Homo sapiens: one gene and its partner. The protein of the gene in region 2 binds, or shares a complex with, the protein of the main gene of each other region. Each region holds a gene or a part of one and is shown on either strand. Other genes may lie near its edges. A codon is read from its position in the direction of its gene.

Region 1 (15,103 bases), on a different chromosome or scaffold from region 2:
ATTGATTCACCAGCCTCGGCCTCCCAAAGTTCTGGGATTACAGGCGTGAGCCACTGCGCCCGGCCTCTTCTTTACATTTTAGATGTAAAGGTATCAGGCTCCTCTCTTGGTCATGTCTGCACGGAATCGAGGTCTGTACCTACCGCCCTCTCTGAAAAACACAGGCCAGAGGTCCATACACACACTGCATTAAGAATTGATTCTTCTTGAACCTTGTGCTCTTCAAGGGATGTTTATTATATGTTAACTCTTCTCTCAGAAGATGGTCTGGATGAGAAGGGACTCTGACTTACACTCAAACCTGAATGGGCTCCGAATTTGGCTCTGGGTGGGAATTGGGCTGTAAGCACTATGTGGGCTGGGCCTCATTTCCACACCTCTCGCCTACCACAGGGCAATAAATATCTGCTAAAAGAAGTCAGACTGGTCTCCGGGAAGAGATAACTCTGCTCCTTCTGTGAATTCTTCAGCTGTACTGCAGACATTACTTGTGCTGGGAGATGGCGGTTGCTGGGGAAAAAACCTGAGAAACCCTAGTTCATATCCTCCCTCTGACACTTCTTAGAGGTATGCCTTTAGGGGGCGCCAATGGCTCCAGATATCTCTTAAGTATATTTCTATTTTGTTTCAAAGTATATGAGGTGGCTGCCAAAGGCAGTAAGAATACAGGGAGGTAAAAAAAAAAAAAAAAAAAAAGAAGAATCCGGGTGTGGTGGCTCACACCTGTAGTCCCAATGCTTTGGGAGGCCATGGTGGGACAATCGTTTGAGGTCAGGAGTTCAAGATCGTCCTGGACAACATAGTGAGACTTTATCTCCACAAAAAAATACAAGAATTAGTCAAGCATGGTGATGCATGCCTGTAGTCCCTGTAGTACAGGAGGCTGAGGCGGGAGGATCACTTGAGCCTGGGAGGTTGAGGCTGGGCTCCAAAGAGAGGCCTTCAGGCAGAGGCTCTGGGCTCGTCTCCTCCTGCACCATCGTCTCCCCACAGGATCAAGCTGCTGTCTGGGAGATGCACCATCCTGAGCAGGACACTCCCTAGTTTCCCTGCTGACACTCGTAAACGGAACCATCTACAACCACTTGCTGTTTGTTACTTTTGACTCTTGGATTCCGATTTCTAGTTTCCACTCTTCTTGCCTAAAATCCAATGCAAATCATCTCAGCAAACATCAAATGAAAAGAAAAAAAAAATAAAAAAATTCATTGCTTATTCCCTTATTGAAAGACATCTGATTCAACAGTATCTGGGCCAGGAACCAACAACTCAATGTTACAAGATTTTGTACCACTAAGTAAATGGGTTTAGTAAAGTTATGAGACATTAGCTTGCATCCAAGCTGGGGATGAGGGGCCCCCAGAAAGTTTTCTTTCCAAGCTATCACCCAAGTTCCCAAATACACACCGCTTTAGGCCAAGTTCAGATCACAGAATCCCAGTTCTGAGAAGCTGCACTTGGTCCTCACCCAGCCCTTCCTACTGTTAGAACAAACAAGAAGGAAATTACTCCATCAGCTTTCACATGCTGGAGAAAATGGCTGAAGGTTTGAAGTCTGGCCTTCTGAGGAAATATTTCACAGAGCTTCTTACTTTTTAAAATTTCTAAAATCTCTCCCTCCTCAGAATTAAGGAACCATACCACTCTCTCTAGGTCACCTGAGGCACGGGAGCTACCTGAGCGAGGTTTATGTAAAGACTTGAAGGTTTGAGAAAGTCCAAAGCAGTTTTTGGTCCAAAGCTGATGTGACTTTGTACCTCTGAGTTATTTGCGACCACAGCCTGGGTATGAATGGGAAACACACTCTGCAGCAGTGTAGGATGGTGCTGTGGACTCTGGACTCAAGCTGAATTCGCTTATTACCAACGCAGGCTTGAGCAAATCACTTACATGTGCGGTGCCTGTTTTCTCATCTGTGAAATGGGGATCATGGTAGTCCTACTTTATAGGACTGTTATGAGCATTAAATAAATTAATGCTTAAAATAGTGGCACTTATAAGCACCAAATAACTATTTAATCAGTACTATTCAATACTGTTATAATAAAAACTAATTTCAGGCCAGGCATGGAGGCTCACGCCTGTAATCCCAACACTTTGGGAGGCCAAGGCCAGTGGATCACTTGAGCTCAGGAGTTCGAGACCAGCCTGGCCAACATGGAGAAACCCCATCTCTACAAAAAAATATAAAAATTAGCCAGGCGTGGTGGCACATGCCTGTAGTCCCAGCAACTCAGTAGGCTGAGGAAAAAGAATGACTTGAACTCAGGAGGTGGAGGTTGCAGTGAGCTGAGATCACGCCACTGCACTCTAGCCTGGACAACAGAGCGAGACACTATCTCAAAAAAACAAACAAAAAAACCCAACTAAACTAATTTCATACTATTTAGAATTTATATGGAAGTAAAAATAAAACTTAATTTCATACTGTTTTGCATTTATTTTGATGTAAAAATATTGTTATTTAATAATAACAACTATTAGTGTAATTGAGAACTTTCTCGAGATTTTCAGACTATATGAAGATTGGAAGGACATATTTAATTCAAAGCATGAGTGGCCATATCAGAGAAGCATTTCTACTGAGGAACGTGGGGTCTGTTCCTAATTCATCAGCCGTGGTCTAGGGACATCAGTCCAGAGGCTTGGGTTCTAAATGTCTCCTTTGCTTCTCAGCTGACAGACGGCACATTGCTTCAGTTCTCGGCATCTCAGTTTCATTACTTGCTAAATTCAGATTACAATAGCTGCCCTGACCACCCCTCAAGGTCTCTGGGAACTTCAAATGAGACTATGTGTGGGAAAACACTTAGAAAATCATAAAGTTAATCATCTAGCTCTATCCCCAGCTCTCAGAAACAGGCCTTGCCTCAGCTCCCTGTACTTTTCTGATGAGGACACCACGCACCAGTGACAAGAACAGGTCCCCTCCCGCTTCCCTACGCTCAGGCAGAGCTCCCCAGCCCTGCTGTTGGGCCTGAGTCTCCTGTCCACCTCGTCCAGTTCCCCATCCTGGGTCTGACCTACCCTTACCCCGAGATGATGAAGGAAAGAGACAGTGACTTTGCCCTTTGGCCAAGCCCACACTTCCTGCATTCCCTCTGATTCCTTCTGAAAGGCCAGCCAGGGCTTCTGACAGGACCCCATTGTGTGGGTGGAATGGGAGGGCCCCTGCCAGTTCAGGAAAGGTGGTGCCGCCTCAGGGAGGCCCAAGTCCTTGTCAGCAGCTCCACAAAAGTGCAAGTGTCATCACATTCCTGCTCAGGCCTCAAAGTGCAAAACATCCACAAAGCCCCAGGAAAAAAAGTGTCCAAGACAGGCAAGCAAGTGCAATTTGCACAGTGGAGAAAGCCTCACATGGACACCCGAAAAGCCATCTGACCAGGCAGCTTCAGACAGCTGCTGGGCCTATTCCTAAAAGGTTCTTTTTTTTTTTTTTTTTTGAGACATAATCTCACTCTGTCACCCAGGTTGGAGTGCAGTGGCGTGATCTTGGCTCACTGCAATCTCCGCTTCATAGGCTCAAGTGATTCTCATGCCTCAGCCTCCCAAGTAGCTGCCACCAGGCCCGGCTAACTTTTGTATTTTTAGTAGAGACGGGGTTTCACCATGTCGGCCAGGCTAGTCTCGAACTCCTGACCTCAAGTGATCCGCCCGCCTCTGCCTCCCAAAGTGCTGGGATTACACATGTGAGCCACTGCGCCCGGCCCCTATTCCTCCCAAAGGATTCTAAAGAAGTTGTATTGCCCACAAAGCCTTCTGTGAAGCATAATCATGACATCAGGAAGTTCCCCTTTTCCTCTCCAAGACCTGTTCTGCAGACCACATCAACCCCCTCACGGGTGTTCTGTGCAGACACAGGACTGGTCACAAGACCAAGGTCTAGCCCTCCATCCCTGGGGCTGCTAGGCCTGTTTGGCTCCCACTCCGTGAGTGAGGCCAAGGTCTTGCATTCAGTTCCTGGGTGGTCTGTTTGTTTTGCCTGGATTCATACCTAGAAACTGAATTTCTAACTTCAGTTCCCAGCTAGAGCCCTTGAAAAGTCATGTCAGTGGTCAGGACAGGAAATAGGTAGGGATGGGTCAAGGGCCACGTGCCCCACTGCAAGAAAACACTCCCAGCATATCTGGGCCTGATGGGCTGAGGGGAGCATCTCTAAAGGAAAGAAGAACCTTGGCATCTTCCAAGACTGGGACTCTAAGAATCCATAAAACATCCCCTCTCAGGAATGCCCTGGTGAAAAGCGAGCTGTCAGATGGGGAGCAGAGGGCACCAAGGGCTCACATTTCAGGAGTAGAGTACTCAGGAGCTCTCATCCTCATGCCTTCCCTCAGGCGACTGCAAAAGTCCTCATCCATTTGTACTCCTGGGTATGGAGACCCACCTGCGGGAGACAATGTGGAAAACACAGGGCCTGTTATGGCTTAAGGGTACAAAAGACCAAGAGGGGACAATTCAGTGTTTCTTTCCTCCCTTTAAAGCTACGTTTTAGTAATAAATTCCCAGGGATTACAACAGATCTCAACATACCGTACAACACACAGAGAAGCTCAGCAAATCCTTGCTAAGGACACCCGCTTGGTTGGGTGGTCACATGGTGCGGGGCACCTGGTGCTCACAGGCTATTCCTATGGCTACTTCTGCCTGTGTGGTCAGAGGAAGGGGTGTCGTCTGAAGGGTCCTTGCCTTCTCCCCACAAGTAACTAAAGAAGTCCCATCATTAGAGACTCATCCTTTGGGTTAGTGAGCTTTTGTTTTTTTTGAAGAGACGGGTCTCCCTCTGTCACCAGGCTGGAGTGTGGTGGCATGATCTTAGCTCACTGCAGCCTCGAACTCCTGGGCTCAAGCAATCCTCCCACCTCAGCCTCCCGAGCAGCTGGGACTCCAGGTGCTCACCATCACCACACTTGGCTTGGGCTTCTTTTTAAAAAGCCAATAGACTTGGGATAGGCTACATAGGAATCATTCACACTTGAGTGGGAATGACTTTAATTCACTTTCTTGCAACCTTCCTATAGTACCAGGGCTCTAGGAGTTGTGACAGGCCTGAGGGAAGGGGGGCTTTGCGCTCCAGGGCTGGGCTGAATGGAGTGGAATGGGGTGGGGGCTGCCCGTGGCCAGGAGTCTGCAGACCTAAGGGCGCCAGAGAGGCCTAGGCTTTGCCTTCTGCCAGCTTTACTGCCCAGGATTCCCCTGCAACCTTTCCTTTTGGGGGGATTCTTGCCAGGGCTGGGGGTGGCAAGGCCTTCTAATGCACTCTTGCTCTAGCCCTGCAGCCTCATCTACCTCAGCATTTGTTTGTGTGCATTTTCTAGTGATTACTGCTGGTAGGAAGCAGCTGGGAGGCGTGCAGTGCTGGCACCGTGTCATCGCAGGACCACTGCAGCCGCCAAGCTGCTTTCAAAGACTGGAAGCAACAGGTGCCTGTCATCGAAAGCAGGGGAATGATTTTCACACATTACAGGAAACCAGGGATGTTACTGGGTGACTTTTATTTGCTGTGAAAGGCAAATTTTTGGCAAAGCCCAAAAGACTCTTGGCGAGAACTTGAGTTTTAGAGGCCTCAGATCATCACTGTGTGTCTGCAAGCAGATGTGGGCTCTGCACGCATCTGTGTGCTTTGAACAGGACTTCCAGCCACCCATAGTGGATGTTATTGCAAGCAGAATAAATACAACCAGTGTTGTTTATTGCTTATCCTGTATAAACCAGTGTCCAGAGCCATATCATGTGTTCATATCAGAGGCACTGGAAAGGTCTCCTGTTTCTAACAACACCTTCCTCGCTGGGGCAGCTGAGCTTGTTATGGCCTTTCCTAGGAAGAAATTCTGAGGTGGTGGGAGACGCGGGGAGGGAAGCGGTAAGGGCATTAGAGGTGTGGGTGTTGAGGAATTGGAAAAGGACAGAATTGGGCAAAGTACAGAAAAAGTACTTTGCTTCAGACTTTATACCCTTGTTCATGATCGTATAAAGCCCTTTTACATGACCTTGTTCTGACCTTGTTCATGATCATATAAAGCCCTTTTACAGTAGAGGGCAGACATGCGTACGCCATTACTCATCTGAGAGTCTACATGGGCCCATTACACTTTAAGAGTTTTTTGTTACAGTAGGTTCTAATCTAAAGGCTGTCTAACCAAAGGACATTCAGCAGAAGATGCAGACATTTATTTCTGGGCTGTTTGATTTCTTCCTTCTCCCAAATTTACCTAAGGAGAAGATTTCCCACAGCAATACTCCGTAAGACCACACGTCGCTCTTGGTGCTGTAGATTTTGTCAAAGATAGATTCAGGAGCCATCCATTTCAGAGGAAGTCGAGTCTAGAAGAGGGCAAGGGGGCCTTGAGCAGAAGGGCATGAAAACAAAGCACATTCAACCCGAGTGTCCATGGGGTCACCTCCCAGATAACATACGGCCTATAAATCATTTCCGAGAGCAGCTCTGGTTTCCTAACATAGAGAACACCATAGTATGCAGTGTTACGCTAAAAGAGGGAGCTAGAGTGCTATACTGAGTCCCATGAAGGCAGTATATGTTCAGTAAGCCCCTCTGATGTGTTCAGCATGTCCTTATCTGCATAGCTCTGTGAGAAATCCTCCCCCACAAAGAAAGCCTGCACTCCACAGGGACACACTCAGGGCTTGGAAAAGGAAAAGAGTGATCTGAATTTGAAGATATCCTGAAAACTGGTGGTGGTTTCCAAAAATTTTTCCAAAGGAGGATTTTGAAAGCATTCCTATGCAAAAAGACAAGATTTCCAAAGTCACTGAATAGGGAGAGTGTGCAAAAGCATCAGAAAGAAGAGAAGAAGGAAAGAAGTCAGTGTTGAAAGAGAATATACAGTTAGTTTTCAAACATGTAGACAAATCTTCCTCTCTTTCAGATAGCAGGAATCCCAGTGAGTTAGGCCTCACCACTTTAGATGATGGGGATTGATGGGAGGTATGGGATAAAGGAGAGACAAGGAGAAAGGAAGTGGGAGGGGCAGGGAGGCTGACTCAGATACAGACGAACAGAAAGGAGGGGAGGACTAACATGAAGGTTGGTGCCATCTCTCCAGACCAGGGCCCCAAGGAAAGTCTGTTTTCCTTTATTTTTATTTTTTTATTTTTACAAAGGATCAATGTGAAGTCATATGTTTTCCTTCTATACAACAGATTCTGGTGCAGTGGCTCTCGAAGTATGGTCCTGGGACATGCTGTGTCAGCACCTTCTAGAACAAACATGTCCAATTCCTGGCCCGCGGGCCACATGTGGCCCAGGACAGCTTTGAATGCAGCCCGACACAAATTCGTAAACTTTCTTAAAACATGATGAGATTTGTTTGCATTTTTTTTTTTTTTTAGCTCATCAGCTATTGTTAGTGTTAGTGTATTTTATGTGTGGCCCAAGATAATTCTTCTTCTTCCAATGTGGCCCAGGAAAGCCAAAAGATTGGACACCCCTGGTCTAGAAACTGGTTAGAAATGCAAATTCTCAGGCTCCACCCAAGAGTTACTGACTCAGAAACTCTGGGGGGTGGAAGGCTTGTTAGGCCAGCACACTGTAGCGTAACAAGCCTTCTAGGTGATATGTATGTTCAATTAAGCTGGGAACCACTACTGTAACTCATTGGCGCCCAGACATAAGCTTAACCCTCAGGGTATATAGGCTGAGGGTTAAGGAGAAGGGAGGACATGGGAGGTCATCCACAAAAGTGAAAAATAACACTATGTCTAAAAACAAGCAGGGAAGAGAAGCCAGTACGAGCCAGCGGGGAGATGCTAGGCATGGAAGGCCATGGGAGGTAAACAGTCTCCTCCATAGTCAGCTACTGCTGACGGTCTTCCCCGCCCTTTCCTGAGACAGATACACCTGCTGAATCAATCATCTGGGTTTATTTGAGGGAAAGAGTCCAGGCTGTTCTTTTCAGTGGTACAAGGAATTCCCTCAGGATTCAAAGGAAGGTAATGCTAAGGTCTCACCCAGGCCCCACCAAACACTTCTCAGGTTAGCAAGTCTCACGCAGCGCTGCCCAAAGGACAGGTGGGAGGCCAGGCATTAGGGAAGAGCAGAAGCAGGAGACAGTGGCCTTTCTGAGCCTTACACAAGGGCTCTCTGGGATGCCGCTCATCTGGACTGTTTGTCTTCACAGAAAGCCAATGATGGTTTTCAGGGACTACAGCTGAGGAAGTGTAAATATTTACCAAGTCTGTGGTTTAAAAGTGATAGGACACACATGAGTCAAATAAACATCAAACTGACTTACATCTCCTTTTCTCACATAATCGGGGTTCTTATAAATATCCCGGGCAAGGCCAAAATCACAAATCTTCACCACGTTGTTCTCAGATAAAAGAATGTTTCTCGCTGCCAGGTCCCGATGAATGCACTATAATAAAACAGTTGCATAATCAATGCATTTCCTTAACCTAACCAACTAATTTCCTACACCTGTCAGTGTCATTATCTTAATTTGGGAATCCATTTCACATGCTGTGAAGGGAGCACCTCTCGGTGCACACAGAGTTACCATAAACATGAAGAGCCTCTCTACAAATACAGGTCCCCAAGCCCTCAAAGTCAAGAAATGGTCTGAATCCACTGGGCTACTATTTGATCAGCGAAGCTGGTTATCTAAGATTTACCAGTGGGCAAACTTTCCCCACAGTCTTTTATCCTGAGCTGCCAAGATGAGATCTTTCTCCAGCTGCAGTTTTGTGGGAGGGCCCTATATGGCTATATTAATAGTAGCTCTCCTATGAAGTCATGTCTTCTGAGATTTGGGCCAGATTTGAAAATATGCCAGAGGATACTGTGGAGAGCCGATGCCAGGTTTGTCTAGTCTGAAACCTGTGAGTTTTCCCCAGAATTAAGTTCTATCCACTGGTATCCATGACTCCTCATTCTCAAAACTCCTCATATCAAGGCAAATTAAGGCACTTGCAGTGGTGTTTGTTCTACATTTAAGAACATAGGTATCAGCAAATACTAGGAAAAATGAATTTATAGCAAAGGTGTGTGTCCAGCCCTGGCAGAGAAGAAAAACAGTAAACAGCAAGACTGACCTTTCTGGAAGACAGGAACTCCATGCCTCTGGCCACTTGAAAACTGTAAGAAATCAGATCTTCCATAGTGATGGGCTCCTTGTAGAAACCGTCAGAATCTGGAAAGCATTAGAACCGTAACTGTTTGTAATGGCTCTTGTTATCCCACCAAATCCCAGTTTATTGGAACAATGTTAGCAAAACATAAAACAAACCAACAAGTAGATCAGAGTTCATTTTTAAGAGTATTTGAGTTTCAACATGAACACCAGAGATTTTTCCAGGCCTCCAGCCCACTTTATCCAAGCATGGGGGCAGGGGGATGATCCATTAAGATGAAAATCCCTGAGGGGAGAAAACGGTACAGTTCCCTGTCAAAATTAGTAACTCTGTAAATTATCTTAATTCAAATCTTATCTCCTCAGGACATTACCATTCGAGTCTCCCACGGATGTTTATTAGAGTGATAAATAAGAAAAAAATTTCAGAGATGCATAGTATGTTGTAAAAATATCTCAGCGCGTAGGACAGGAAGGAATTAATACCTACCCTCCTCTTCCTCAACATCACTCAGACTTTTATCTTCCTGAAAGCCGGAGCTCGCAAAGCTTTCGCTGCTGGTGACGCTATCTAGTCTTGGTTTCTTGCCTTGTTCCAGGCCTGGCTCCATTTTTTCTTTCTTAGGCTCCATGTGTAGTGCTGCATCCTTTGAAGAGACCGAAAAGGACCCAGGTGAAAAGGAGCTCCAGCACAGCAGTGGGAAACCAGTCCCTCAACTGGCAATCGCCTGATGAGAAATGAGAGCGTTTCACTTCTCAAAATGGATCGTGAACTAGCACAGGGGCCCTACGGTGTCCAGGAGCCTGACTACCTCTGGAGTTGCAGAGTCTATTGTGCTCTTGCCTGGGCTTCTAGACAGCATCTTAGATCAGATAAAAAAAAAAAATTAAGAGTGGTGGGTATTTACTGAATGCTTACTCTGTGTGAGCTGGTATATTAAAAGCTTTAGGTACATTTCTTGTTTAGTGTTTCCAACAATTTTACGAAGTAGTTCTTATTTATACATGGAGAAACAGGTTCAGAGAAGTAAAGTAATCAAATTCACATGCAGCTAATAAATAGCAAAGCTGGCCGGGCACAGTGGCTCACGCCTGTAATCCCAGCACTTTGGGAGGCCGAGCCAGGTGAATCACGTGAGGTCGGGAGTTTGAGATCAGCCTGACCAATATGGAGAAACCCCGTCTCTACTGAAAATACAAAATTAGCCGGGCATGGTGGTGCATGCCTGTAATCCCAGCTACTCAGGAGGCTGAGGCAGGAGAATTGCTTGAACCCAGGAGGTGGAGGTTGCAGTGAGCCGAGATCACGCCATTGCACTCTAGCCTGGCCAACGAGAGCAAAACTCCATCTCAAAAAAAAAAAAAAAAGCAAAGCTTGAACCCAGGATTGGTCGATGCCCACATCTGTGCCCTTAACCACTTTTCCATGCCACACGCCATCTTGTGAAGGATGACATCACTGAGAGGAAAGGATCCTCAGTGTGCTTGGTGCTTCACTCTGTAATCCCTAGGAGGAGTTATAAGAGAAGGCTATAGTTACCAATTTCTCAGGTTTCTTTGGGGAAGGAGGGAACATGGACATTGCTTTTTTTCTCTTCCATTTAAACAAAGATACAGTTTGATCCTAACAAGGGTAGCAATGGCCTTTCACCCTGGACTGCACATCCAAGCCCTGGTTCATTTGGCTCTTCCATTAATCATGCGATCTTGGGCAAGTCACCTTACTTTTCTGAGTTTAATTATCCTCTTCTGAAAAGCTCTATTATACTATTATTTTATGATTCATAGGAAAGGAGTTGTCAGTTCTGGGTGTTCATGGGAAACCAGAAAAGATTTTTATTGCCTTTTGTAATTCATCTAGTAACTATGACACTCTAAAACCTAGCACTTTCAGTGGCTTTATAACAAGACCATGTTTGTAGCCTAGATTCTGCTAGACAGCAATACTGAGGCAGAAGCAGAGAGGGACTGGAGTTCAGTGGTGTCCCTTGATCCATTTGCATGGTGTGGCAGTTCTAGGATTAACCCGCGTACCCCATCCTTCCTGGGCTTTTCTAGAAATGTCACAAAGCAAGAGTGATCCCTCCACTAGAGGGCACAGTGGGAGCAAGCAGAGCACTGGGAGAAAGCTTCAGGAGGGACAGCCCTAACCTAGTCTAAAAGCCAAAAGGGCACCAAGGTTCCCAGCCCCTGAAAAGAGACCTTCCGGGGTTGCAGAGGGAGGCAGGCCTCAGAGTGAATACCCACTGCCATTGCAGGTAACCCACCTGAGGGCAGGTAAAGACTTTCACTATTTGTTATTGTGTTTCCACAATGCAGTTATATTGGATTCTGTTCAGTTGGGGACTGGAATTTTATTTTTCACAAGATCCTTTGTGGGACAGAAGGCATCAGAGAAAGCGCTGGCAATAGCATGGGGAGAAAAATGCTCCACAGGCTCACTCAGGGCTCTGCATGTGAAAACTCTCCCTGGACAGCCTTCTTCCCCACGGCACCCAAAAGTCACAGCCTAGGCATGTCTCCAAGGACCAAAACTCAGGCTCTCTCACTCCCTTCCTGACTCCCAATCAATTGTATATTCAGCTTTGCTTATCAGTACCACTTTTGTTAAATAAAGGTAATTTACTGAACTCTTGGGACTCTGGCAGAATATAGTGAATTTATTACAAACCATATTTAAGGATCCCAGTTAATTTATTTGGAAAATGAAGTATTCCATTTTCAATTTAGCCTTTTGGTTTTGCCTTTCCTTTACCTTTATCTTCCAAATATGAAAGACAGCCATGGATTTTCCACAAAAACACTAAGCTCCACCAAGTTGCACAGGGAGGCAAATCATTAAATATAGCCAGAGAAGGAAGCAAACTCTTCAAAACAAAGGACGCACAAACCCAAACGTTCCATCCTGCCCAGGTCCCTAGGGTATTCTGCTGGCTTAGCTCTTCCTGAAGCCAGTCCAAAATTTCAGTACTAAGGGGAATTTGTACTGCCCTCAGCCCAAGGCACCACTTTCCACTTTTTCTTATGCTTTTTTCACCTCATTTAGTGTGGTGCACAGAAAAGGCAGTGGAGGAGGAGTCAAGAGAGCTGAGTTCTTTCACCTTCTGACTTCACCTCATGGTAGGTGTGTGTCCTTAAGCGAATCACTTGACTTCTCTGAACGCATCTGCAGCCTGCGAGTGTGAACCAACTGATCACAAAGATCCCTTTCAGTTTCAAGATTCTAATTATTAGGCCGGGCACGGTGGCTCACACCTGTAATCCCAGCACTTTGTGAGGCCGAGGCAGGCGGATCACCTGAGGTCAGGAGTTTGACCAGCCTGGCCAACATGGTGAAACTCCGTCTCTACCAAAATATTCAAAAATTAGCTGGGCGTTGTGGCGGGCTCCTGTAATCCCAGCTACTTGGGAGGGTAGAGGCAGGAGGATCACTTGAACCCAGGAAACGGAGGTTGCAGTGAGCTGAGATCACACCACTGCACTCCAGCCTGACTGACAGAGAGAGAAACTCTGTCTCAAAAAAAAAAAAAAAAAAAAAAGGTTCTTATTATTAGAGGACCTGACTTAAACCTGGGGAAAATGATGTTCTTGCATATATTGCCGGTCCGGTAGAACATCTCTGTCTTTAATTAGATCAAAGTTTGAGGGATGAGAAAATTGGCCAGCTGTCCAGTGGTTCTTATTTGTGTGTGAAGATTCTTGCCCACATTATAAAGATGGGCATCATTCTTGGATTTCAGACATTTTATCCACCATGTAGATCAGTGGTACGAAGTTGGACTCACCCAATTTTTCTATCTTAGTAGGTCAATGATGTTGATGATGATGATGACAGTGGTGGTGACAGTGATGATTAACATTTATTGAATGTTTGACTGAGAGATTTTTATTCTCTCAACAATCCCATCAGCTGGATTCTATTATAAGCTTCATTTAATAAACGAGGGAACTGAAACAGACAGGTTGAGTAATTTGCATTCCCAGATTTCATGAGAAGTAGAGACAGGATTTGAATCCAGGAAGTCTGATTCCAGAGTCTCAATGTTTAACCACCACACTACATGGGTTCATCACCAGTGTTGCTGATTACTGGTTAATAATGTTGAATCACTGTCCCCTGGACTTCTTCAGCTCAGAGAAGGACACAGTATTGGTGCCATATGTCACACTGGCAAAGTTTTAGTAAATTATTTCTCCTCCATTCAATAATCTCTCTCTCTCTTTTTTTTTTTTTTTTTTTTTTTGAGACGGAGTCTCACTCTGTTGCCCAGGCTGGAGTGTAGTGGCTTGATCTCGGCTCACTGCAACCTCAGCCTCCCAGGCTCAAGCGATTCTCCTGCCTCAGCCTCCCTAGTAGCTGGGATTACAGGCGCGGGCCACCACGCCTGGCTAATTTTTGTATTTTTAGTAGAGACGGGTTTTCACCATGCTGGCCAGGCTGGTTTCGAACTCCTGACCTCACAAGATCCACCTGCCTCAGCCCCCAAAGTTCTGGGATTACAGGCGTAAGCCACCGTGCCTGGCCCAATAATCTCTTTTAAACCTTGTTTGCCCTTAGGTCTTGGGTCCACATGTTCCTTTTACTACACAGCTTTTATTTAATAAGGCTGGTTCAGAGTATATGTAGGGATGACATGGGTAGTGAGGGTGTCAGGAAGTAGGGGAAAGGGCAGTGGAAAAGAAAGATAATGATTTTTGGCCCTGGCCACATCATTGGTCTACTGCTGATTGTCAAGTCACTCAGTTGATTTAGCCTTAGTCAAAATCTAACCTAATAAATGGAGACAATTATATTAACTATTATCTTCCTTAAAGAAATAAGTGACTTGTGTATGTATGTTTGCGTGTATGTACACATGCACACATATATAGGGGGAGAAAGAGAGAAAGTTATTGTTAGATATTTAGATAAGTGGCTAGTAGATTTACTCTCCAATTATGGCTGCATACGCACACAGGGATCAAATGATTCTCTGTGCTATCCACACTAGAGTGTAACAGATTATCAGGGGAAAAAACATGAAAAAAGGAGAAGAAGCAGAGATTGAGTTTTAAGTTTAATCATTAACAACACAATACAGGTTTCTCTTGCTTTATGTTGTTACAGACTAAATGAAAACTCATTGCTATCTTTAAAAACCTCCAACTTTTGAAATCCTTACCTTGTTGAGAAAAAATAAGTCACGTTTGCTCTTGAGGTAGTTGGAGAGATTTCCATATTTGCAGTATTCAACAATCACCATCAGAGGCCCTGCAGCCAAAACAGCACATGCTCATGCTCAGCCACACCAAGCCAGTCAGCCATTTGCCAGCCTTCAGCCTGCCTGAGAAACCTCAAACCAACCAGCCTTTGTATTAGTGGGGCGAAGGGATGCGATTTAGGGATGAGAGGCCCATGAATACGGTGACTTTTTCAGTTTAACCTAAGAAGGGGTTTAAAGAATACAATTGAAATACAAAAAAAAAAAAAAAAAAAAGGAGGTGAGGGGCAGTGCAGAAGCATTAGAGAGAAAAGATTGGAAGAAGGACAGAAATACGTTTGAGGAGGGGAGAGGCAAAAGCCAGCCTCCCTGCCTCTTAACCAGACCCTTGCGAGTAGAGCGGCTTCTGGTTACTGTCACACCAGTCCTGGAACTATTAAGCAGCTCCTCCCTCCCTACCACGACAGAGACGGCTACCTGGCCGTCTCTCGCCAGCAGTGTCTGCGCGATTTGCCTTGGGGCTTGCCAGAGGATCTACAGTAGGAATCGGCAAACTCTTCTTGTAAAGGTCCAGCTAGTAAGCATTTTAGGCTTTGCAGATCAAGGAGCTACTACTCAATTCTGCCTTTGTAGCCTGGAAACAACCAAACAAGTATGACTGTGCTCCAAGAAAACTATGAACACAGAGATTGGAATTTCATACAATTTCATATCATGAAATATTATTTTTATTTTTTATTTTTTCCCCCAACTTTAAAAAGGTCAAACCATTTTAAGCTCACAGGCTGACCTTGGTTTGCCAACCCGACCCCGGTC
Region 2 (11,306 bases):
AAACACATCAGGTAAGGGTGGACAAGGGTTCCACTATGTCCCCTGGCCTCTTGAAGCCCGTAGGTAAGGGCAGATGTCTACCACAGGGGCTTCTGGGAAGGCCCGAACTGCAAGCTGGAAAAGCTGTGTCCTACATTTCTACTCCGGGCAGATGTCACCTCCTCCAAGAGATCTCTGACCTCTGAAAGACGAGGCCAGGTACCCCTCACCACAGCCCTTGACATCCTCTGCTGGCATTGTCCCTCCTGTATCTGACTCCTGAGTTAGAATGTTGGACTTGCTTATACAGCTCCAGGTGCCAGCAGCTGTTTGGTAAATATTTGTTCAACACATTCAACAGTTTCCCCTTCCCTGGCCCTCCTCCTACTGGCAGGCTCACCCTGGACCTGCTCCAGGACAGGGCCTTGGTGCCTTCCCAAACAAACACCACCCCACAGACGCCTCACCTGCAGGTGTCTGGGTTGAGCTCTAAGCCCCGCCCTTGGCAACGGAGGAAGCTGCGGCGTCGGCAGCGGCAGCGGCAGGTCCGGGGGTCAGGGCGCTGGTGGTGCTGGGTGCAGCGTGGGCAGAGGGGCCTGGGGCTGGAGTGGGATGGGTGATGTCAGCTGGGGAGGGTGCTCCGGGGGCAGAGTCCCAGCCCGGAACAGAACGGGGCTGGGGACGGTGGTGGGGAGTGGCAGCCCTAGGGAGGAGAAGCGACATGTCTGGGGTGGGAAGGAAGAGTCTTCCCTAGAGCTGGGGTCGGGGCAGAGAACACAGGCTTGGGGAGCAGAGGAAAAGGGAAAGTGGGGGACGGGTGGGAGGAGAAAGAGGAGCAACAGCTTCTGGACTCACTTGTACTCCCCATACCCCTACTCAGCTGGAGTCCAAAAGACTCACCTGTCTGGCTTCACAGCACTGTCCTTTTTTTTAGGTCTGAAAAGTAAGATAGACAGACACAGACAAACAAGAGGAAGATCAGGAAATCCCAGCATCCTACTCTCTCTCTCTCTCTCTCTCTCTCTCTCTCTCTCTCTTTGAGACTGTGTTTCCCTCTTCTTGCCCAGGCTGGAGTGCAGTGGCGTGGTCTCGGCTCACTGCAACCTCCGCCTCCCAGGTTCAAGCTATTCTCTTGTCTCAGCCTCCCAAGTAGCTGGGATTACAGGCACCTGCCACCATGCGCGGCTAATTTTTGTATTTTTTTTTAGTAGAGATGGGGTTTCACCATGTTGGCCAGGCTGGTCTCAAACGCCTTACCTCAGGTGATCTGCCTGCCTGGGCCTCCCAAAGTGCTGGGATTATAGGTGTGAGCCACTACCCCCGGCCCAAGCATCCTACTTTGTTGCCCCAGATCCAAGGCCTACCCTTGGCTCTACTCTTTTTTTTTTTTTTTTTTTTTTTTTTTTGTGGCAGAGTCTTGCTCTGTCGCCCAGGCTGGAATGCAGTGGCACGATCTTGGCTCACTGCAAGCTACGCCTCCCAGGTTCATGCCATTCTCCTGCCTCAGCCTCCGGAGTAGCTGGGACTACAGGTGCCCGCCACCACGCCCGGCTAATTTTTTGTATTTTTTTAGTAGAGACAGGTTTTTACCATGTTAGCCAGGATGGTCTCGATCTCCTGACCTCATGATCCGCCCGCCTCGGCCTCCCAAAGTGCTGGGATTACAGGCGTGAGCTACCACGCCCGGCCCCTTGGTTCTACTCTTAGGAACCTGGTCCCCAGTTCTGTGGACCACCATACCCAGCACCCCCCAAGCCTGGCCTCTGCGAGCTCAGAAGTTGGGCCTGGCTGGCACCTGCATTCACACTGGCTGTGTTCTTCCAGGGACATCTCCCCCAGCTGACTGCTCGGGTACCGGATCATGAGGATCTGTGCTCAGGAGAAGAACAGGGGGGACAGTGAGGGAGAGAGAGAAAGGGGATGCTCTAAGACTGAAGGGAGAAAAGCTCACCCAACAGCCGGGAGGCTGGCCACCAGCCCTCCCCCCAACCCTGTCTCCTGTGCATCAGTCTCCAGGCTGCCCCAGCCCCAGAGCCAGCCAGCATCCACCCTGCCCGCTGCCCCACCTGCCCAGTACCTGCATCCCCTGCCCGTTGCCCCACCTGCCCAGTACCTGCATCCGGACTTGGTGCTGCCCAGTGGGCACACACTCCAGGCCATCGTCAGGGCAGCAGCCACCACAGCGCTGCACAGTCACGCAGCTGGGCACCAGCTGTTTGGCCACGGTGCCCATGAGCTCCACAGTCAAGGGCACCACCACCTCCCGGGGCTGGCAGGTAGCGCGAGTATACACATCTATCCATGACACCACTGGGAGCAGACCGGTAGGGGTTAAGTCCTCACTGGTTTTCCTGCAGCTGCTCCCAGCATCTGTCCTCCCCAGTCCCCAAGTCACAGCCACCCTCCACTAGCCCTCCCCACTCTGCCCTCACAACCTGTCTTCCCCTGCCCTGTTTATCCAGATCCCAGTAACCCCACTGCCTCAATTTCCTCCTCTGTGAAATGGGTAGAATAATAGTTTGAATCTTCTAGGGGAGTTACACAAGATGATGGACACCTGGAATCAGGGCCCATGACAAACCCTCTTAGTGCTGGCTAGTGCCGAGTTTTTGTAAGTATTACCTTTCCTCTGGTGGCCAGGGGCATCAGGCTGGGAGACAGGGGCCTGTGGGAGAGAAAAGACCTGTACCCAAGGTACACTTTAGGAGGGTGTGGCCCTGTCACCGTCCCTGGGGCTTTGCCCTTGCATCAGTAGGCTTCACCACCTCTCTGACATCTTTCCAGATTGCTCTGTTCCTGCGGCCACTGCTCTAGCTTTACCTGTCCTCTCCTGGCCACCCGGGACCTGCCCTGGCCCAAAACGCAACAGGTGCTCTGGTGGCCGCGCCAAATCTCCAGGCCGCGGAGCCGAGCATGTTTGGGGGCTGCATGCAGATCAGGAGCGCGCACAGTGCCCACCGAAGCAGGTCCTGCAGGCACCGAGGGAGCCCCGCCCCCGGCGGTGCCCAGGGGACGGGGTGGGGCGGAGGAGTGGCCCCAGACTGGGGCTGGCGGGCCAGCGGGGAGGGGCACCTCCCAGGGGATGCACGCGCCGGGCCCCCGAGACGCCCGCGTCCAAGGCCGGACCCCGCAGATCCCCTCGGCCGAGGCCGCGGGTCGCCTCCTCACTTCCGCCAACCTTGAGAGAGGGCACGGCGGGCGGGCGGGCGCGCTGTCGGGCCGCACGTACCTGGGCGGGGGCCAGCTGCAGGAGTGCGGCGAGCAGCAGGCGGCGGAGCAGAGGGCTCATGGTGCCCGCCGGGGCCGCCCGCCGGGGGCGCCCGCATCGCCCTAGCCCGGCGGCGCGGGGGGCGGCGACAGCCAGAGCCCCATGGCGCGGGCCCGGGCGCGGCGGGCGGGGGCCGGGCGCGGGGGGCGACTCCTCCGCGGCCCCCTCCCGAGCCCTGGGTGCAGGCAGCGCAGCGCAGCGCAGCGGAGGCGGCCGGAGGAGCCGGGCGGGCGGGCGGCCGGTGGCGGCGGGCAGCGGCGGCGGGGACGGCGGGGGCGGCGGGGGGCTGGGCCCGGGCTGGCGGGCAGGCGGCTCATGTGACCCAGACACGCGCTCCCCACCGGCCCGTGGGGCGGGGGCGGGGCGGCGGGGTGGGGGGGCGAGGCCGTCGGCGGGGCCCGCCTCCTCCACACACCCCCTCCCGCCTCCCGCCGCGGCAGGGGAAAGGGGACGCACCGCCCAGGAGGCTGGGCTCCCCAGTCGCCGCCGCCACTACCCGGAGGGCGGGGCGCTGCCCCTTGGCGAGGCCGGGGCCGGGGGCGTCGGGCCTTAAGGAGGGAGCCGGACACGAGCTCTGCGAATCACTTTATTGCGCGCGTTTCGGGGAGCGGGCCGTCCAGGGAAGGAAGCAAAGCGGGAACGCACTGCAGGCCCCATCCAGGTGAGCCCCTCAGGGGCCGGCGCCCCGGGGCACGATCTCGGGGCCTTGGGTTGGCTCGGATGGTGGCGGCTGCCGCTGCCCTAGCCGTTGTCGCTCCTGCTGAAGGATGCCTCTGTTGGCCCTGGAGGAGAGGGCACCTGGGTGGTTGGGATAGGGATCCCGAAGTGTGGTTCCTGGACAGGGAGCAGGGAGCAGAATAGAGCAGGGACAGACCTGGCCCGTGCCCGGGCTTCGTTGTAGAAGGCTGTGATGATCCGATCCTTTTCATCCATGAAGTTAAGGTGCATCTGCTTCACCTTCCTGCAATGGGTCACAATTAACCCTGGGAATCCAATTCCTGCTGTCCCTGAAGTCCTGCCCCCTTCCACCCCACTCTAGGGGCCTCACAGCTTTTTACCCTTACACAGGGTTAGGAACCTCAGTCTAACCCTTCCTGTGATAGATAGGGAGGGCTCAGAGTGGCCCTGGCTTGTCTAGGGTCCAATGGCATCCGAAGTCCCTGGTCACTTTGAGGTGTGACAGCAGCTGTGGACATGGGGGTGCTCCTCCCAGAAGACTAGAAAGGGTATGCGTCTAACTCCATCACTGAACTAGGCAGGCTGCTAGCAGTGGGCACTGGCCTTTAGGTATCTGCTATAGAAAATCGGCTTTGTGGCCAGGCGCGGTAGCTCTCACCTGTAATCCCAGTACTTTGGGAGGCTGAGGCGGGTGGATCACCTGAGGTCAGGAGTTTGAGACCAGCCTGGCCAATATGGTGAAACCCCATCTCTACTAAAAATACAAAACAACTAGCCGGGTGTGGTGGTGGACGCCTGTAGTCCCAGCTACTCGGGAGGCTGAGACAGAAGAATTGCTTGAACCTGGGAGGCAGAGGTGGGGTTGCAGTGAGCCGAGATTGCGCCACTGCACTGCAGCCTGGGCAACAGAGTGAGACTCCATCTCAAAGAAAAAAAAAAGAAAAAAAGAGAATAAAGAGAATCAGCTCCGTGGCACGCGTGAGAGTGGCAGGGAGATGCCTACTGCCAAATGAATGAGCTGTGCTGCATTTGCTGCTTGTGCTTGATTTTGTTTGGCTCAATCCCTTCCTGGCAGCCAGCATGAAAGATTTACATTCGAAATATGAAAAACTGTAAATGACAACGTTAGCTCTTGGTGCAGCGCTGCCTTTAATAAGTAAGGAGAGGCTCCAGAGACCAACTTCAAGCAGCTCTTAGCTTGAGAGACACAAGAGTACGGGCCACGAGGTGCTGTGGAGGACTGGCTGACCACACTGGAATTCACCCACCCTCCTGCCCTCTGCCCATCACCCCGGGGAGAACAGGCATCACCTGAAGGCAATGTAGTGCAGGCCCATGCCCGCCAGCATGAGGAGGAGGCAGTACCCCAGCACTTGTTTGTTTTGTTTGTGTTGCTGCTGCCTCAACTGGGGCCCCTGTGGCCTCACGCTGTGAAACTGGGACCAGTACTGTGCGTTGGGGGGTGTCCAGGAGCTGCTGGGAGGCAGAGGAAGGGACATTGTGGAAATGAGACTACCCAAGAGACCTGGGGGTGGGGCAAGCTGAGGGCAGGATTACTGTACCTGTGTGTTTGGTGGGCAGACTTGTCATGGACTGTGGTTCGTGGAGACTTTGGGGGACTACCTGAGCGGAGCTGGTCATCATAGCTGCGGCGGCTCTGCTCACGGCTGAGCACACGGTATGCCTCGCTCAGCTCCACAAAGCGGCTGTGCAGGCTTGGGTTCCCAGGGTCCCGGTCTGGGTGCAGCTGGGGTGGGGCAGGACTCCCCTTATCTCCCTTTGCCTGTCCCTCCCCAGGACCCATGCTGATGACATCCACCCACCAGGGCTCCAGTCATACCCAGAGGCCCTGCCTGGTCAGTGACCCTCACTCAGGCCTGCCCACTCCTCAGAAGGCCAGAGAGCATGGACTCCTGCTTCCTCCTGTGTTCAAGCCCTCCCCACCTGCCAGCCCCCTGCATTCACCATATGCCCTGGTCCAGGTTTCTCAAGAGCAGGCAGGCAGGTCAAGAAAACCAAGCCCAGCCCATCAGACAGGACCCCTGGCTCCTGCCCACAGCCTTTCCCCTACCATTGAGCACCTGCCACTCCCTATGAGGGCTGAAAAAATGTGGCACCCGCCAGAGATGCTGGTCTACTCCTGGGAATTTGAAGCACACCCCCACTGGCTCAAAGTTCCTGCTCCCCCTCCCCACCTCAGGGGTACGGGTACCTCTTTGGACTTGGAGAAGAAAGCTCGTTTAACTTCCTCAGTGCTGGCACCAGGATGCACCCCCAACAGTTCATAATAAGTACTGGGTCTGGACCTGTGGACAGAGTCCCAAACCTTGCAGGGGCTGAAGGAACCCAGAAGCTAGCTCTGCCCTGCCTTCTGGGCCACACCCTTCAACTCAGCCACCAGGAGCTGACAGGGCTGAAACAGGTCCCAGGACAGATCTGTCTCCAGATCAGCACCCCCTTTGGAGTGTTTCAGGCATAGTGCAGGTCAGGATTTCTCAAAGTGGAGTCCAAAAACTTGTTGGAAAAAACTGATTCCTGGACAGGCGCGGTGGCTCACGCCTGTAATCCAGCATTTTGGGAGGCCGAGGAGGGCGGATCACCTGAGGTCGGGAGTTCAAGACCAGCCTGACTAACATGGAGAAACCCTGTCTCTCCTAAAAATACAAAATTAGCCGGGCGTGGTGGTGCATGCCCGTAATCCCAGCTACTCGGGAGGCTGAGGCAGGAGAATCGCTTGAACCCGGGAGGCGGAGGTTGTGGTGAGCCGAGATTGCTCCATTGCACTCCAGCCTGGGCAACGAGCGAAACTCCATCTCAAAAAAAAAAAAAAAAAAGGAAAAAGAGAAAGAAACTGATTCCTGACCCCCACCCAATTGATTCCTCCAGTTCAGAATCTCCAGAGCAGAGCCCAGGAATCTGGATTTTGTACCCGACACCTCCCCATCTCCCACCCCCCACAGAGGGTTATGCACAGTGATACAGCGATGCTTGGAAACCACTAGAGCTGTGGTAAGAGCGTTGGGTTTGACCTGGACTCAAACTTCCTCCTCTGCCGCTTAAATCGGTGTATGACCTTGGGGGTCTTCTCTATCTCTGATCCTCAGCAGGGAAGGCGAGGGTTACCTGAGACAAACCTGGGAGCCTCCTGACACGGAGTAGAGACCACAACTAACTCAGCACGTAGGGCAAACAGAAACCCATTGAACAACCGGGCCGGCCCCCCGCGCCCAACTCACCGCTGCCCGGCGGCCGCTCCGAGGAGCCGGGAGGGAGGGTTGCGGGGCCACAGCCGGCACAGGCGCAGGGGCAGTAAGGGCGGCATGGCGGCGGGCGGGCAGCTGGGAAAGGAGGCTACCAAGAGCGCATTGGACCAGGATGGGGCTAGACTTCAAGCACCCGGGGGCAGAGGGAAGGGGCCTGGCCCGTTGTTCTGCAAAGGAAGACTGAAGCAGGCCCGGAGAGGGGGCGGTTCTTGCCCAGGACCAGACCCGCGTGTCCTTGGACCTGCCCCTTCCTCTGACCCGGGCATCCGCAGCCCTTCCCAGCGCTGGCTTCGGGGTCTGGCCACCCAGCCAGGGACCCCAAGACCCCGTTCCCACCCAGGGAACTTGGGGACGGGAGAAGGAGGGGCCACAACCAGGCCCCGCCCCCGCTGCTCACAGACCCGCGGCCGTCGCCATTTCCTGCGTCTATTCAGGCCCCGCCCTCACATTCTCATTGGCGTGGATGCCAAGACCACGTCCACCTGTCAGGAAAAAAAAAAAAATCGGTGGAGACCCCGCCCCTACATGTCTATTGGCCTTTGGTGCCTCCGGTCCCCCAGCCTGCGGACTCGCTGGACAGGCGCGGGCGCCCACCTGGGGAGCGGGCGGGACAGAGCCCGCTCTCTGCGGCTTTGTGACGTTTTCGGCCCGGCCACCGTGTCTCCGTTCCGCTGTTGCTCCCCTCTGCAGCGAGGTATATCTTACGGAGCTGCTTCCGCCCCGGAGCCTCTCTGGAGCCAGCAAAGAAAGGGAGGCACAGTTCTTATCCCCTGCTTGCAGAGGGGGACACAGGCTGGGCGGGTTTTTTTTTTTTTTTTTCCCAAGTCACTTGTCCTGCCTTACACACTCAGGGCCCATTGCTCCTCTCTGTTACAGAAATAGCAGATGCCAACGGAATCCAAGAATAAAGTCGTTTATTATTTTCAGAGCGGCGGGAGTAGGGCTGGGGACCCTAGGGCCGCTCCAGTGGGACTTCCCTGAACCCGGTTGTAGAGGATGATGGCGCCTTTGGCCGAGGGGCAGAGTTCAGCCCACATCTCCGTCTCGAGCAATCTCTGCACGTTCTGTGGGGAGACAACGAGACCCAGGCATTCAAGCTTGCCACTTCTCCTGCCAGGGCTGTGCCCAGAATTCCTGAGCCTCAGAGACCTCTGCACTGTCCTTAGGGAGGCATGTTAAGGGGCTGAACATGTCCCTGGACCTTTCCCTTGCACTGAGGGCAAATCTTGTGACTCTGGAGGGAATTGTGACCCAGCCAACACCTCCCCTACAAGATATGCATTGCCAGGCCTCTGCAGGCCCCAGCCCTGGCCTCCAAGCAAGATGGTTTGTCACTCTGCACCTGTGTCTCCACAAAGAAGATTCCTGTAGACTCGTGGGCCTCGGGTCCCCCACTCAGGTAGTGCTTCCTCACCTGCTCAGAAGTCAGGCTGCACCTGGACAAGAACACAAGGGTGGCTTAGTGGGTGACCAGCCCCTGCGGGGTACCTGTGGAGCCACAGCTGCCTCAGCCCACTCCTCACCACCCACCTTCCCAAGACCCAGGATCATGTACCCGAGCCTACTCACTGGACATAGAACTCGGCACTGGCTCGGCCAGCACTGGTCTCATTTCGGGCGATGCCCAACAGCAGGGGCTGGCTCAGGGTGAGCAGCGGCAGGTTCACCTGCGGTGGAGGGTGGGGTGGGGGGAGGTCCCACCTATCAATGCCACTGCCCACATCCCTGCCCGTCTCAATGAAAAACCGCCTGTTACCTGTGTACAGCATTTTATAGCTTGTAGATCAAGGACCCAGCATTACAGAATGTCAGATGATGGGCATGTTTGTTTTACAGGTACACCAAAACCAGAGAGATTGAACACGTTGCCCAAGGTCACCCAAGAGAAGTCAATTTAGTGACTGGGACTCCCACTTACTCCTTTTTCTTTTTTTCTTTTTTTGAGATGGAGTCTCGCTCTGTCGCCCAGGCTGGAGTACAGTGGCACGATCTCAGCTCACTGCAACCTCTGCCTCCCAGGTTAAAGTGATTCTCCTGCCTCAGCCTCCTGAGTAGCTGGGATTACAGGTGCACGCCACAACGCCTGGCTAATTTTTTGTATTTTTAGTAGAGATGGGGTTTCTCCATGTTGGCCAGGCTGGTCTCGAACTCCTGACCTCAGGTGATCCGCTGGCCTTGGCCTCCCAAAGTGCTGGGATTACAGGTGTGAGCCACCACACCCTGCCACACTTACTCCTTTTTCTTTTTTTTGAGACGGAGTCTCGCTTTGTCGCCCAGGCTGAAGTGCAGTGGCGCGATTTCGGCTCACTGCAACCTCCGCCTCCCGGGTTCACGCCATTCTCCTGCCTCAGCCTCCTGAGTAGCTGGGACTACAGGTGCCCGCCACCACGCCCGGCTAACTTTTGGTATTTTTAGTAAAGTCAGGGTTTCACCGTGTTAGCCAGGATGGTCTTGATCTCCTGACCTTGTGATCTGCCCACCTCAGCCTCCCAAAGTGCTGGGATTACAGGCATGAGCCACGGCGCCCGGCCACTTACTCCTTTTTCAACAGACTTGGGGAGTAGGCAAGATATTTATCATTGTTTCCATTGAAAAGAAGAATCCTTGGCGGGGCAAGGCATGAGAATCACTTGAACCCAGGAGGCGAAGGTTGCAGTGAGCCGATATGCCACCACTGCACTAGCCTGGGCAACAGAGCAAGACTCTGTCTCAAAAAGAAAAAAAAAAAAAAGAAGAAGAATCCGGCCTGGTGCAGTGGCTCACACCTGTAATCCCAGCACTTTTGGAGGCTGAGGCAGGCAGATCACGAGGTCAGGAGATCAAGACCATCCTGGCTAACAAGGTGAAACCCCATCTCTACTAAAAATACAAAAAAAATTAGCCAGGCATGGTGGCGGATGCCTGTAGTCCCAGCTACTCAGGAGGCTGAGGTAGGAGAATGGCGTGAACCCGGGAGGTGGAGCTTGCAGTGAGCAGAGATCGTGCCACTGCATTCCAGCCTGGGCAACAGAGCGAGACTCTGTCTAAAAAAAAAAAAAGAAAGAAAAAAGAAAAGAAGAAGAATCCAAGGCAGAGGGTACTGAGGGCTAGAATTCCACTCCAAGTATGTATAGCTGCAAAGCCAACTTCTTCCCTCATTGCTGGCCAGATGCCTGCAGGCCTCCTGCCAGCCCAGACCTGTAGAATTCTGGCAAGTCCTACCCCCTCCCTTCATGTCTACCACCCTGTCCAGGTCAACCTCACTCACCTCATCACAGATCTCCTGAAGGACACTGGAAAAGAGTTCATGTACCACCAGCTGCCCAGCGAGGTCCTGGTGCTGGGGGCTGCCACCAGGGCACAGGGCCTGTGAGAGGTCAGGCTCAGCCCCTGCTCCCCACCTCTTCCCCCTGCCCCATCTCAGGACCAGCAAGCCTATACCTGCTGGCCTTGAGGGTCTGATGTGGCACAGTGTAAGAGAGTTAGTGATCCTGAGTCTGGTGTCCTTTCCCTGACAGACAACCAGAGGTCCAGCTTCAAAGGAGATACACAGGGGGCAGGGGTGGAGTAGGGCATCTTCTTCCTGTGCCCAATCTTTCCTCCCGTGTTTTCTAGTTTCTCACAGGACTGGGGCAGGGGTCAGTGGGGAGGCAGGTGGACTGCCCTGAGCAAACTTCCAGAGAAATACCAGGCCAATTTTCCCTTTAAGGAATGAGGAAACCAAAGCTGGGAGGATTGGGAGGGTGGAGAGCTGCAGCTCCCTTGAGCTGTCTGGGTCTTTGTGCCCAGCCTGGAATCTCACCTGAGGCTCAGGGTGCCCACCAGGTACGTCCACCAGCCCAGGGGCCTCAGCCACCTGCCGGGAGCGGCGCAGGAAGACAAGGAAGTCATCGGCTGTGGCTAGTGCAGCGCCCACCCCCAGTGGGTCCGCCAGATAGGCCTGCGTGTCACCCCAGTCGGTGGCACCCTGCTGTCGCAGCCAGGCAGCTGAGCTGGACCAGTTGGTGCCCAGGAAGTCTCGGTAGGAAGTAAGGCCCAGGCGCAGGAGCAGCTGTGGCCCCCGAGAGCCAATAGGCGCCAGGGTGGCTGAGTGCAGGCGGAACTTGGGGGCGTCGAAGAGCCAGGGTTGGGCCTTTAGC

The links.
Region 1: the proteins of VEGFB (region 2) and FLT1 are in contact, whole or in part, in a crystal structure (PDB 2XAC), measured with the Homo sapiens proteins. Residues at the interface, in NP_003368.1 of Homo sapiens: Ser37 (codon at 2,284), Trp38 (codon at 2,281), Ile39 (codon at 2,278), Tyr42 (codon at 2,269), Thr43 (codon at 2,266), Thr46 (codon at 2,257), Cys47 (codon at 2,254), Gln48 (codon at 2,251), Pro83 (codon at 2,146), Asp84 (codon at 2,143), Asp85 (codon at 2,140), Gly86 (codon at 2,137), Leu87 (codon at 2,134), Cys124 (codon at 1,779), Arg125 (codon at 1,776), Pro126 (codon at 914); in NP_002010.2 of Homo sapiens: Tyr139, Glu141, Pro143, Phe172, Pro173, Tyr199, Ile202, Gly203, Leu204, Asn219, Leu221, Arg224, Thr226.

The regions. Positions count from the first base shown.
Region 1 is NC_000013.11:28,313,214-28,328,316, forward strand, and holds part of FLT1 (vascular endothelial growth factor receptor 1 isoform 1 precursor), read right to left. Parts: intron 14,338-15,103; coding exon 14,249-14,337; intron 9,734-14,248; coding exon 9,577-9,733; intron 9,147-9,576; coding exon 9,049-9,146; intron 8,373-9,048; coding exon 8,250-8,372; intron 6,322-8,249; coding exon 6,210-6,321; intron 5,706-6,209; exon of another isoform or gene 5,316-5,705; intron 4,385-5,315; coding exon 4,285-4,384; intron 568-4,284; exon of another isoform or gene 394-567; intron 1-393. UniProt on the Homo sapiens protein: Tyrosine-protein kinase that acts as a cell-surface receptor for VEGFA, VEGFB and PGF, and plays an essential role in the development of embryonic vasculature, the regulation of angiogenesis, cell survival, cell migration, macrophage function, chemotaxis, and cancer cell invasion.
Region 2 is NC_000011.10:64,226,796-64,238,101, reverse strand, and holds the start of VEGFB (vascular endothelial growth factor B isoform VEGFB-186 precursor), read right to left. Parts: upstream 3,519-11,306; 5' UTR 3,269-3,518; coding exon 3,209-3,268; intron 2,645-3,208; coding exon 2,602-2,644; intron 2,290-2,601; coding exon 2,093-2,289; intron 1,849-2,092; coding exon 1,775-1,848; intron 916-1,774; coding exon 880-915; intron 683-879; coding exon 469-682; coding exon of another isoform or gene 447-468; intron 1-446. Other genes in the region: DNAJC4 (dnaJ homolog subfamily C member 4), read right to left, coding at 3,989-4,208, 5,237-5,401, 5,488-5,672, 6,138-6,231, 7,162-7,247; uridine diphosphate glucose pyrophosphatase NUDT22, read right to left, coding at 8,112-8,252, 8,531-8,624, 8,758-8,855, 10,436-10,534, 10,609-10,701, 10,970-11,306. UniProt on the Homo sapiens protein: Growth factor for endothelial cells. VEGF-B167 binds heparin and neuropilin-1 whereas the binding to neuropilin-1 of VEGF-B186 is regulated by proteolysis.